Homo sapiens: one gene and its partners. The protein of the gene in region 1 purifies or fractionates together with the protein of each later gene. This does not show direct contact. Each region holds a gene or a part of one and is shown on either strand. Other genes may lie near its edges.

Region 1 (3,756 bases):
AACCATTGTGGAAGTCAGTGTGGCAATTCCTCAGGGATCTAGAACTAGAAATACCATTTGACCCAGCAATCCCATTACTGGGTATATACCCAAAGGACTATAAATCATGCTGCTATAAAGACACATGCACACGTATGTTTATTGCGGCATTATTCACAATAGCAAAGACTTGGAACCAACCCAAATGTCCAACAATGATAGATTGGATTAAGAAAATGTGGCACATATACACCATGGAATACTATGCAGCCATAAAAAATGATGAGTTCATGTCCTTTGTGGGGACATGTATGAAATTGGAAACCATCATTCTCAGTAAACTATCACAAGAACAAAAAACCAAACACCACATATTCTCACTCATAGGTGGGAATTGAACAATGAGATCACATGGACACAGGAAGGGGAACATCACACTCTGGGGACTGTTGTGGGGTGGGGGGAGTGGGGAGGGATAGCATTGGGAGATATACCTAATGCTAGATGATGAGTTAGTGGGTGCAGCACACCAGCATGGCACATGTATACGTATGTAACTAACCTGCACAATGTGCACATGTACCCTAAAACTTAAAGTATAATAATAAAAAAAATTAAGAGAAAAAAAGAAAAAAAATGATATTCATTAATTTTTGATTTCTCAAGCAGACTTCGCAACTGGAGGAAGAATAAAATGACTAGACTAGGAGAATATGCAAACTATTAAGCTAGATTTCCCTTTGTAAATTAAAAAATTAGTACTTTAGTTTATCAATCCATTCTTTGTGGTGTTGGTTTCATGAATCATTTCAAAAACAATGGATCACTCCTGCTAGCTCTAGTCATTTTGTTATTCTCATAGGAAAAAAATTAAATATGAAAATGAATAGAAAAGATATATATAGAAGCCCAAGAAAAAAATGAGCTGACCTCACATGCACGACAGGAAGGGCCACATAAATGGACAATATACAGAGATTTAATTTACAAAACAAAATATAAAATCTGCCTCTCAGTGGTATGATTCTCAAAAGTTCTAACTTTTATACTCAGCATCATGTTTTAGCAACTATATCTTACAAAGTCTGACCGACTTAATCATATCAACTTTAATTTATGAGTCAATGAAGTATATTTCAGGAGGAAACATCAAATGATATTAAAATATTGATGGTTCATCTGCTCCTTTCCCTTATTATTTAGTTTTTCTTTCTTTTTTTAGCTAAACTAATGTAAAATTATATCTAATGACAGCAAGCTTTCCTTTCTTTCGACATAGTGAAAACTTGTATAATTATGAAATTTTTAAAAGGTTAAAGCCTTTGTTATTTATTTTAATTCAAATCCAGTATATTATTATACATATTCGGAGCCCAAACTATTCATCTTCATCTAAACCTTCAATTAAATTCCACAATGCAAACCTCTTGGCTCTAGAATCACGTTTCTTGTTTATTCAACTGAGCCTGTGTCTTGAAAAAGTGTTGAAGTTTGGGGGTTTTCTGGTGAGAATCCACGTTCTGACATCACCTTGGTCGTGACAGTGATTGGCTGTTGGAAGGCAAAGAAGAGTTTATAGCCAGCAAGAGCAAGTGAATGAGTGAGTGAGAGGGCAGAGGAAATACTCAATCTGTGCCACTCACTGCCTTGAGCCTGCTTCCTCACTCCAGGACTGCCAGAGGGTAAGATTTAATAGAACAACTTCATTATCATAAAATTAGACACTCCATAGTTTACATCTCTGAACTTGGCTTTGAATTTTTCATTTAAATGATGTTATTGCATTGTACATGGTTTAATAATTATTTATCATTAAACTGGCACTTCAGATTTTAAATTCTTTCCAAAAGGCTAAACTTATTAACCTAAGCATGTAAATAAGTTCTTAATACTATGCACATAAACTACATTATGCTTCTTACTTTCATTCTCTGCAAATCATAGCTTAACTGTTTGTTTTCTCATTCTGATGCATTCAAGATAACCTGATTGAAATACTATTTTGCATTTGCAAATCTGGCTAGATATATGCATATTTCTCTACAAATTATACCTAGTCTGTACTTCAAGTACATATGTTGTCTTTTCAACATATTAAACATTAGGTTTTGATGTTTCCTATAGCTCTAAAGTCAGAACAGAAAATATATTGTACTAACTAGAGAAATAAATACTCTTGGTAGTTTATCATACCCTTCCCAATAAAACTTGAAATTAAATCCTCAAAATTCTCCTTTAAGAATGTTTGAATTGTTGTCTGGGTTAGTAGTGGTCACTATAGAGGTCTTGGCTTTTTGTTGACTCACAAAGTAAATAAAATTAGATTTATATAGGCAGCCAATCCTGACTACAAGAACTACTTGGTTCTTTGTATTGTTATTATTATTATTTATGCCATCTTTTCATCTGGTTATTTTTATTGTTATGAGAAATTTGTGTAATCAAAACTATTTCTATAATTCTATGTATCTAAGCTTTTAGCTCTTTAAAATATTATAAATATTCCGACCCTTCTCACAAAGTGGCAAAGCAATAATCTTTCTGTTTTGCTGATGGGCTTGGTCACGGCTGGCAAAGTTCAAAGCATTATTTAGACCACCCCGATAGAAATCAGTGCTGCTTAAAAAGATGGGCTCCTTCAGGAGCAAAGCCTGTTTATTCCCAAGGGGCCATCAAGACCTTTTACTAAGATAGGACTGTGAGAAACTGTCTGGGCACCAAAACCCAAAGACTCACTCTGACACACAAAAAGAGTGTGACTTAGGACCCAAGACAGTATCTCCAGGACTTAGTGTCAGATACTCAGTAAGGATGCAATAAATCTTGGCTGATGATGACACAATACACAATTTACCAGCAGGTTTCAATATATGACATTGGTTTGCACATTTTAAGTATTATTTTCAAAATGTATTCATGGGAAATTGCCATCACCACTACATTTTGCTTCCAAAATATTGCCAAAGCTGTGACTGTGTATGAGAAGGTGCTAACAGTTAAATGTGTATGTAAATGTAAATGGCTGAGTGTTAGTAGGCTTTCAGCTAAGCTTGCCCAACTTCTATTATGATATAATTTTAAATACAATTTTATTAAATAGAATAAAATTAAGATAGGATAGCATTTCACTATCTCCTTTTACTCATGAGGAATTTATGTGGAACTGAGGCTCTTTTTATGGCTGCAATCCCCAAGATTATTCAGGCCCTATTCCCACTTTGAGAGCTGCATCTTCGATTGTTCCATAGAATTGAAATTTTCATCCATGTCTGTCACCCTAACCCTGGAGAGCCCCTAATCCATCCCAGTACAGTCTCATACACTAGCAGATGGAAAGCTTAAATGGAGCTGGAGAGCAAATTAATTTGAGGAAATCTGCCCCCGATATCTCAAGGCGAAACTCTGAAGAACTCCTCATGGAAGCATCCTTAGCGGAGTTGCTGTTGCGTGCTACATGATGTCAGTGTGATATTTCATATATTATGGATCCTCTCTGTCTCTCTGTCTCTGTCTCTCATCCACCCACCCATACACACACACACACACACACACACACACACACACGCATATACACACACACACACACCAATTATTCCAAGATGTTCAGAGGAAAATTGCTCCTACTTTCCATTTTACAAATAAATTTTTAGCCCAAAACCTATATAGAAGCTGGAAACCGCCTATAGGGTATCAGTGATTTTTGCTTTTTTGTTTTATTTTTGAGACAGGATCTCACTCTGTTGCCCAGGGTGGAGTACAGTGGTATGAACACGGCTC
Region 2 (3,656 bases), about 11 Mb from region 1:
CTCTGGGGATCCTTAACTCTCTCTACTCTCCTACTCAGCCTATCTGATTCCCAGACTGAGGTTCAGATACAATGTATCTTTCCCATCCATTTCAGGGTAAATAGCTCAAGGAATCAGTTTAATTAACATTTTTACTTGCTCTTAACTGTATTTTGCAGCTTGATTTTGGGGGGAGAAGGAAGGAGGTTTCTGGTTTTGAAAAATCATGCTGACTTTCATAATTACTTTCTTTCATTCCTATCCAGGCCTTCCTATCAGCCTGGGGTGGGAGGGGGAACAATATTGTAATCCATGTTGCATAGAAAGAGTGACAGAGGAAGTCTTCCCTAATTTTCAAACTGCTCCAACTGCGGCCCCAAGGGTAGTATCTAGAGATATTAATATTTCTGGTTGTCAAACACAGGGTGGTGGTGTAACTGGCATTTACTGGGTAGAGACCAGGAATGCTTGTGGAACATCTTATGTGTATAGAACAGGTCTCTACAACAAAAAATTATCAGGCCCAAAAGCCACTAAGTGCATAGACTAAGAAACCCTACTTAAGAAGCCTAATTTCAACAGCTTTTCAAACCCTCTACCTGGGGGAGTAAGGGAGGTGCAAAATGAGGGGCAAAAATGATATATACAAAGGAATTCAAAGCACTTTCCAAAAAAGATCAAGCCACTTTCGTTCCTTCCTGGCTACTGTTATGAAAACTATTGGCAAGTTCCAGTCATACGTCATATAAAACAGCATTCTAACTATCTGGTTTTTTCTTTTTCTTTTTTTTTTTTTTTTTTTTTTGTTTCTTCAGTTGATTCACAGAGAAGCAAAAAGAATAGAAATATTGACTATATTATCTGGCAGAAACTCTAAAAATTATTTCAAACTTAAGCTTTCACAAATGACAAATTAAACATTAAATTTCTTCAATTCCACCTCCTGTATTAATGTTTTAAAATAATCAACAATGAGTAATAAGTTTTCAAAATTTCACCTGATACACAAAAATATCATATTCCTTCATTTCCATTCCTCCAACTTGAGTAAAAATTTCATCTCCCATACACATTAAAGAACGCACTAAAAACAATAAAAATACTGGATCAACATTATTAGAGATAACTGTATGTTTGTCTAAGAACTCTGTCCTGTTCACTATTCTGTTGATGACATCAAGATTTGGAGAGACTGGGGAGGATTGCAGGTAGCACACTGGTAATAAAGTTGATATGGTAAGGATTTAACCAGAAGGCTGTTTGCCCATTTATTAACAGTTTGTTAACAACTCCAACAAGATGCTGTTAAGAACTTTCCTTTCTTTTTTTTCTTTTCTTCTTTTTTTGAAATGGAGTCTCGCTCTGTTGCCCAAGCTGGAATGCGGTGGCACAATCCACTTCCCAGGTTCCAGCAACTCTCCTGCCTCAGCCTCCCGAGTAGCTGGGATTACAGGCGCCCGCCACCACACCTGGCTAATTTTTGTATTTTTATTAGAGACAGGGTTTCACCATGTTGGCCGGGCTGGTCTCGAACTCTTGACCTCAAGTGATCTGCCAACCTCAGCCTCCCAAGGTGCTGGGATTACAGGAGTGAGCCACCATGCCCAGCCCCTTTCCTTCTCTTATCCCCATAAGATACTGATTAAACAAAAAAGCCTCGATAAGTTGTTCATATGTACAAAGACAGACAGCCTGAGAAAAATCCTCCAGAAATACACCCCTACCCATTACTACAATAGTAAGAAATCTGGAAAGCACCAAAATCCAACAGAATAGTTACACAAATTGTAATACTATAGAATATAATACATAGCCATTAAAAGAATGAGGTAAATCTATGTCTGTAGGTATATATGCTAACTTGAAAAGATCTCTATGATAGTTGAAAAAACAGCCCAGTTACACATTAAAAATATTATGATTCCATTTAACTTAATTTAACACATACACATACGTGTGTGCATTAATGCACAGGAGAGAGAAAAAACCTAAACGGTAATGGGATATCTCTAGAGAGAAGAGAGAGATAAGAGGGGAGGCAAGTGTAAAGGAGGATCACACATTTTTCACTCATAATCTTCACTTTTAATTTTTTATGAGGAGAACATAATATTTATGTACTGGAAAGAATTTTAAAAATAGAATAAAAGTTGCACTAAAAAACCATCTGCACAGTCCTCTTCATTTATCAGGCAAAGAAAAGGAAGATAAATCACAGAAGAAACAAAGGATGCTAACCAATCATCTGGTCTATCACCACCAAGAGATTCCCAGATCATCCTTTTACCCATTACTGCTAACAACCAAAGCTAACTCAGGTAGAACAGGGGCAACCTGGAAGGTACAAGGAATGCACAGAACTGCAGCGCCCAGTCATTCTTGGCCCATCAACACACAGGACTGCCAATAGGTGCTCAACACTGAGGCTGACCTGCATCAATGGCTTGCATCAGGCACTCATATGTGGTCTGAACAAGTTTCCGTGCTCCATCATCCACTTCTCCAACAAAAAATGTCTCATTCAGGTCCCCATGATAACCATTGCGATAAAGAGTGATATCCACTGCAAGAGAATGTGCAAATATAAAGACCATACTTATTTTCATTTCAAAATTCAAGTGTTTTTCCAACATGACAGCATCTAGCAACTTAATGAAAAAGACAACTTCTGCATTCTCAAATTAGACACCAATGGATAGATAGTTATTGCCCAACAGAAGCTCCCTGAGATGTAACTGAACTCACTGTGGAGAGCAGGAATATGGCCATGTAACATAAGCCAGATAGTGGGTTTTTATACTCTTATAGTAATTGTATCACTTGTGGCAAAAGAAAAATGTATGTGGGACACAATCATGCAAAATAAATTACCAGAGTTAGTAACATTAAATTGAAAACTTTGCTACATTGCTACAAAATACCATTTTCACTTATCTTTTACAAGTTCCTTACTCCTGCTAGGGAATAACAGAAAAATTTACACTGCTCTACACCTGTTTTTTTAAAACTCATTTGCTTTTCTCTTATTTGTGAATATTCATTCTTCTCTTTGTCCCCATGTTTAAGAATATAGATTACTATTATACTATATATTATATACTATTATACCATTATAATGTATCTAGAGAGCACATTGAGTATTTTTAAACCACATATTTCAATCAACCTGTAACATCACAATATAGATATTTTGGTTCTAGCACAACACATACATTCCTGAAAAACCTCACACATTCTACATATAATAAAAATAACAGGCTTTATATTTGAAAAACAGGGTTGGCCTCAAAACCTATGGAACTTTATGAACAGATACCCTAACTAAAGCAGTAGCAATTCTAATAAAAATAGTGTCATAGTTAAATTTCGGCTATCATTCACAGCTAGCATCACAATCAGTCAATTATCTGCAGCCTCTAACACTTGGGCTCATGCTTCCTCATTTGATAGGTAGTTCCTTTAAGATATCTTATTAACAAAGAGTCTAATTCCATCAATATTAAAATGCCATCTAAGCCAGGCACGGTGGCTCATGCCTGTAATCCCAAGACTTTGGGAGGCCAAGGTGGGCAGATGCTTGAGTCCAGGAGTTTGAGACCAGCCTGGGCAACATGGCAAAACCCCATCTCTACAAAAAATACAAAAACTGAGCTGGGCATGGTAGCAATGAGCCTGCA
Region 3 (3,656 bases), on another chromosome or scaffold:
TTAGACACCGAGTATGAAATGACATACGTGTTTGCCTCCACATTGCCCTTTTTCATTTTCCTTTGATTATATATATATTTTGCTGTATTATATTGATAAAGTCTAGAATTGTGTCTGGAAAGTAGTGTGAGATGTTATTCCACTTCAGTACTAGACTCTTCCCATCTCCTCAAGAACATGACTGTAGCAATTCTCCCCTTTCTCCATCCTCATCAGCCTGCACAAACATGCTTTTATTTCTCCTATTGTAAAAAATACTCCTCTTCACCTTGCTTTTCTATGTAATTCCTTCCCTTTATAACAGAACTCCTGGTGTTAGCTGTGCCTACTGCCTTCAATTTCTTATTCTGTCATGCATCCTCTCCACTCAAGGTTTTGCTGTCCCTGCCCTCAGCTACTCTCATTGAAGTTCTCATGACCTTTGCTTTGCCAAATTCAGAGGTCAGTTCTCAGTTCTCCTTACCCTTCATCTGTTTCACAGCATTTAACATAGCTCTTTCCTCCTCGAAACACTTTCATCACTTAGCCTCAAGGACGCTACACTTTTTGCCTCTTATCTGTTTTTGTTGTTGTTGTTGTTGTTGTTTTCGAGATGGAGTCTTGCACTTGTTGCCCAGGCTGGAGTGCAATAACGCTATCTCGGCTCACTGCAACCCCCGCCTCCTGGGTTCAAGCAATTCTCCTGTCTCCTGAGTAGCTGGGATTACAGGCTCCCGCCACCACACCTAGCTAATTTTTTGTATTTTTAGTAGAGATGGGGTTTCACCATGTTGGCCAGACTGGTCTCGAACTCCTGACCTTAGGTGATCCACCCGCCTCGGCCTCCCAAAGTGCTGGGATTACAGGCGTGAGCCACTGCGCCCAGCCGCCTCCTCTCTTTTTGACTACCCTCAATCCCTCATTGATCTCATCCAGTGTCAAGGCTTTAAATACCATCTTTATGCTGAGGATGTCCAAATTTATGCTTCACAGCCTTGGCCTCTTCGGTGAGTTCCATTCTAGTGCACCCAGCTGCTGACCCAGTGTCTCTATGTGCATATTTCATAGGCATCTTAAAATGTCCTGAATTCAACTCTTGGTCTCTGATTCCCCAAAACCTGTTTCAATCCTCCATCTTCCGCATTTCAGTGAATGGCAAATCTGTTCTTCCAGGTGCTCAGCCAGGAAATTTTAAGAAATGAGGGAGAAGATCCTATTGATCTCTGGAGGTTGGTAGACAATAAAGGAGGGGCAGTAGATTGTATAGTTTGGTCATATGAGAGTCAGAATTGCTTTTTATTAATTTATTATTAATTAATTAATTAATTATTTTTTGAGAGAGAGTCTCACTCAGTTGCCTAGGCTGGAGTGCAGTGGTGTGATCTTGGCTCACTGCAGCCTTTGCCTCCCAGGTTCAGGCGATTCTCCCGCCTCAGCCTCCTGAGTAGCTGGGATTACAGGCGTGCACCCTGACGCCTGGCTAATTTTTTTATATTTTTATTAGAAACGGGGTTTCACCATCTTGGCCAGGCTGGTCTCGAACTCCTAACTTCAAGTGATCTGGCTGCCTTGGCCTCCCAAAATGCTGGGATTATGGCGTGAGTTACCACACCCGACTTATTTATTTATTTTTTGAGACAGGGTTTTGTTCTGTTGCCCAGGCTGGAGTTCAGTGACACAATCACGGCTTACAGCAGCCTCGACCTCCTGGGCTCAAGCAATCCTGCCACCTCAGAACTCCCAAGTAAAATTGCTTTTTATGGTCTAGAAAAGGAGTGTGTAGTCTGGAAGGAGCAAAAGAATAAGAATATATGTTTTGTCTCCAGGCTCAGTGATACTGGAGTATGGGCTCCATACAAACAGATGTTCTCAGGAAGGTGAGGGAGTCCTCAGAGAAGAGGTTGAGGATAATGGGGATTTTGCTGATGATGGACTGTTAGTGTTTTGGGGCTCGGATGTTTGGGAGATGGAACAGAATAAGGTGTAGGGATTACTGTGTAAGAAGTGAAGCCTGGCTCTGGATCTCAGGGCTTCCTGTGGTGAGTGATATAATAGGTTTAAATAGGTAGGTAATGGTGATGGGGTTTGAGAACTGGGGGTTTCTGGAGGAATGGGATGTCAGTGGGAGTGTCTTGCAGATGAAGGTTAGGAAGGCTGGGTGGCTGGGTCTTTACTTACCCTGCCCCTGATAGCTGCACAACTTGTACCTTCTCCATCCCTTGGTCCTTAATTTTACCTTCTAAATGAGGATGCTGTCCACCTTGTCTAAAGTTACAACCTCCTTTTCCCACGTGGCTTTTATTTTTCCCCTTTGCACTTATTGCTATTTAACATACTGTATAATGTGTGTGTGCGTGTGTGTGTGTGTCTTCCCCACTAGACTGTGATTTATGAACTGCTATGTACCCAGGGGCAAAAACAATATCTGGCACAGAGTAAGAACCCAATAAATGTTAGTTGAGTAAAATCAGACACAGACAGAGGCAAGGCTTATCTTCTCTGTTATGTCCTGTTTAAGTATATCTATCACACAGTGCAAAGTTACAGTAGGAATTTGGTTAATTTTAAAGTCTGATAATTCATACAGAGTTATGGCATGAGCCAATGTAATTTTCATTGGCTTATGCCATAAGAATTACATTTCTCCTACCTGCCAGACATGGTGCTTGGCAGTAGTGAATATATAGATATCTTCAAGGAACTTCACGGATTAGTAATGAACATGAAAGCAAAATGCCACTAATAATGAGATGAGTGCTAGAAGAGTGATGTCACTATTTTACCTCTAGGAATACAGATGAGGGGCTATCTGGTGGGTGAGGTGTTAGTAGGGAGACGAGAGAGGAAGGGACAGGTGAAACTGCCAGGTAAAGCCAGGAGTGCTGGTGTTGACTTTTGTGCTAGAACTAGGGAGAAAACAGGTTCACCAACTGGGCAAAGAAGCAATGTTAAACTAGGGCCAGAAGCAAGAAAGTGCTTAGTGTGGGTAATATCTGATAGTGGCTTTTTTTTTTTAAGTGAATAACTTAAAAGGTATTTTATCTTCCATTGTTTAGTTCAGCTAATCTAGCACTTGTATAAAATCATTAGTAATTGAATGGTTAAGTCAAGAAGGATCTTACGTTTTTGATCTACTCAATTTGGTTATTTTTAAGACTTAGAAAAATGTAGCTCAATGCCCAATTGCTTTGCTAGTTAAGGTCTTTTGTATATGAAATATTGAGGACATTTTTATGCTGGGTTGAGGTTTGGGCTCATTTTTGGTAGGACATCTAATGGCTTTACCTAATACATTTTGTTGGCTATTTTTGTCTACAGGTGTTGGAAATCAATAGCTCTTCTAGCCTTTGCATTGTTTAAATATAATAGTGTCATTGGACTAAGATGTTCCTGATGCCAACCTCTTCAGAGTTAAACAGTGGGCAGAACTTCCTAACCCAGTGGATGACCAATCCTTCTCGGGCTGGGGTCATATTAAATCGTGGATTTCCTATTTTGGAAGCAGACAAAGAGAAGCGAGCAGCTGTGGACATTTCTACCAGCTTTCCTATTAAAGGCACACATTTTTCTGATAGCTTCAGCTTTATAAATGAAGAAGATTCACTTCTTGAAGAACAGAAGTTGGAGTCAAACAACCCTTACAAACCACAGTCAGATAAATCTGAAACCCATACAGC

What was found.
Region 2: the proteins of IBSP (region 1) and METAP1 purify together in Homo sapiens (affinity purification with mass spectrometry; one large-scale study listed by BioGRID and IntAct). This does not show direct contact.
Region 3: the proteins of IBSP (region 1) and CPAP purify together in Homo sapiens (affinity purification with mass spectrometry; one large-scale study listed by BioGRID and IntAct). This does not show direct contact.

Annotation. Positions count from the first base shown.
Region 1 is NC_000004.12:87,797,973-87,801,728, forward strand, and holds the start of IBSP (integrin-binding sialoprotein precursor), read left to right. Parts: upstream 1-1,581; 5' UTR 1,582-1,661; intron 1,662-3,756. UniProt on the Homo sapiens protein: Binds tightly to hydroxyapatite. Appears to form an integral part of the mineralized matrix. Probably important to cell-matrix interaction. Promotes adhesion and migration of various cells via the alpha-V/beta-3 integrin receptor (ITGAV:ITGB3).
Region 2 is NC_000004.12:99,044,065-99,047,720, reverse strand, and holds part of METAP1 (methionine aminopeptidase 1), read right to left. Parts: intron 2,543-3,656; coding exon 2,411-2,542; intron 1-2,410. UniProt on the Homo sapiens protein: Cotranslationally removes the N-terminal methionine from nascent proteins. The N-terminal methionine is often cleaved when the second residue in the primary sequence is small and uncharged (Met-Ala-, Cys, Gly, Pro, Ser, Thr, or Val).
Region 3 is NC_000013.11:24,912,733-24,916,388, reverse strand, and holds part of CPAP (centrosomal P4.1-associated protein), read left to right. Parts: intron 1-3,297; 5' UTR 3,298-3,363; coding exon 3,364-3,656. UniProt on the Homo sapiens protein: Plays an important role in cell division and centrosome function by participating in centriole duplication. Inhibits microtubule nucleation from the centrosome. Involved in the regulation of slow processive growth of centriolar microtubules.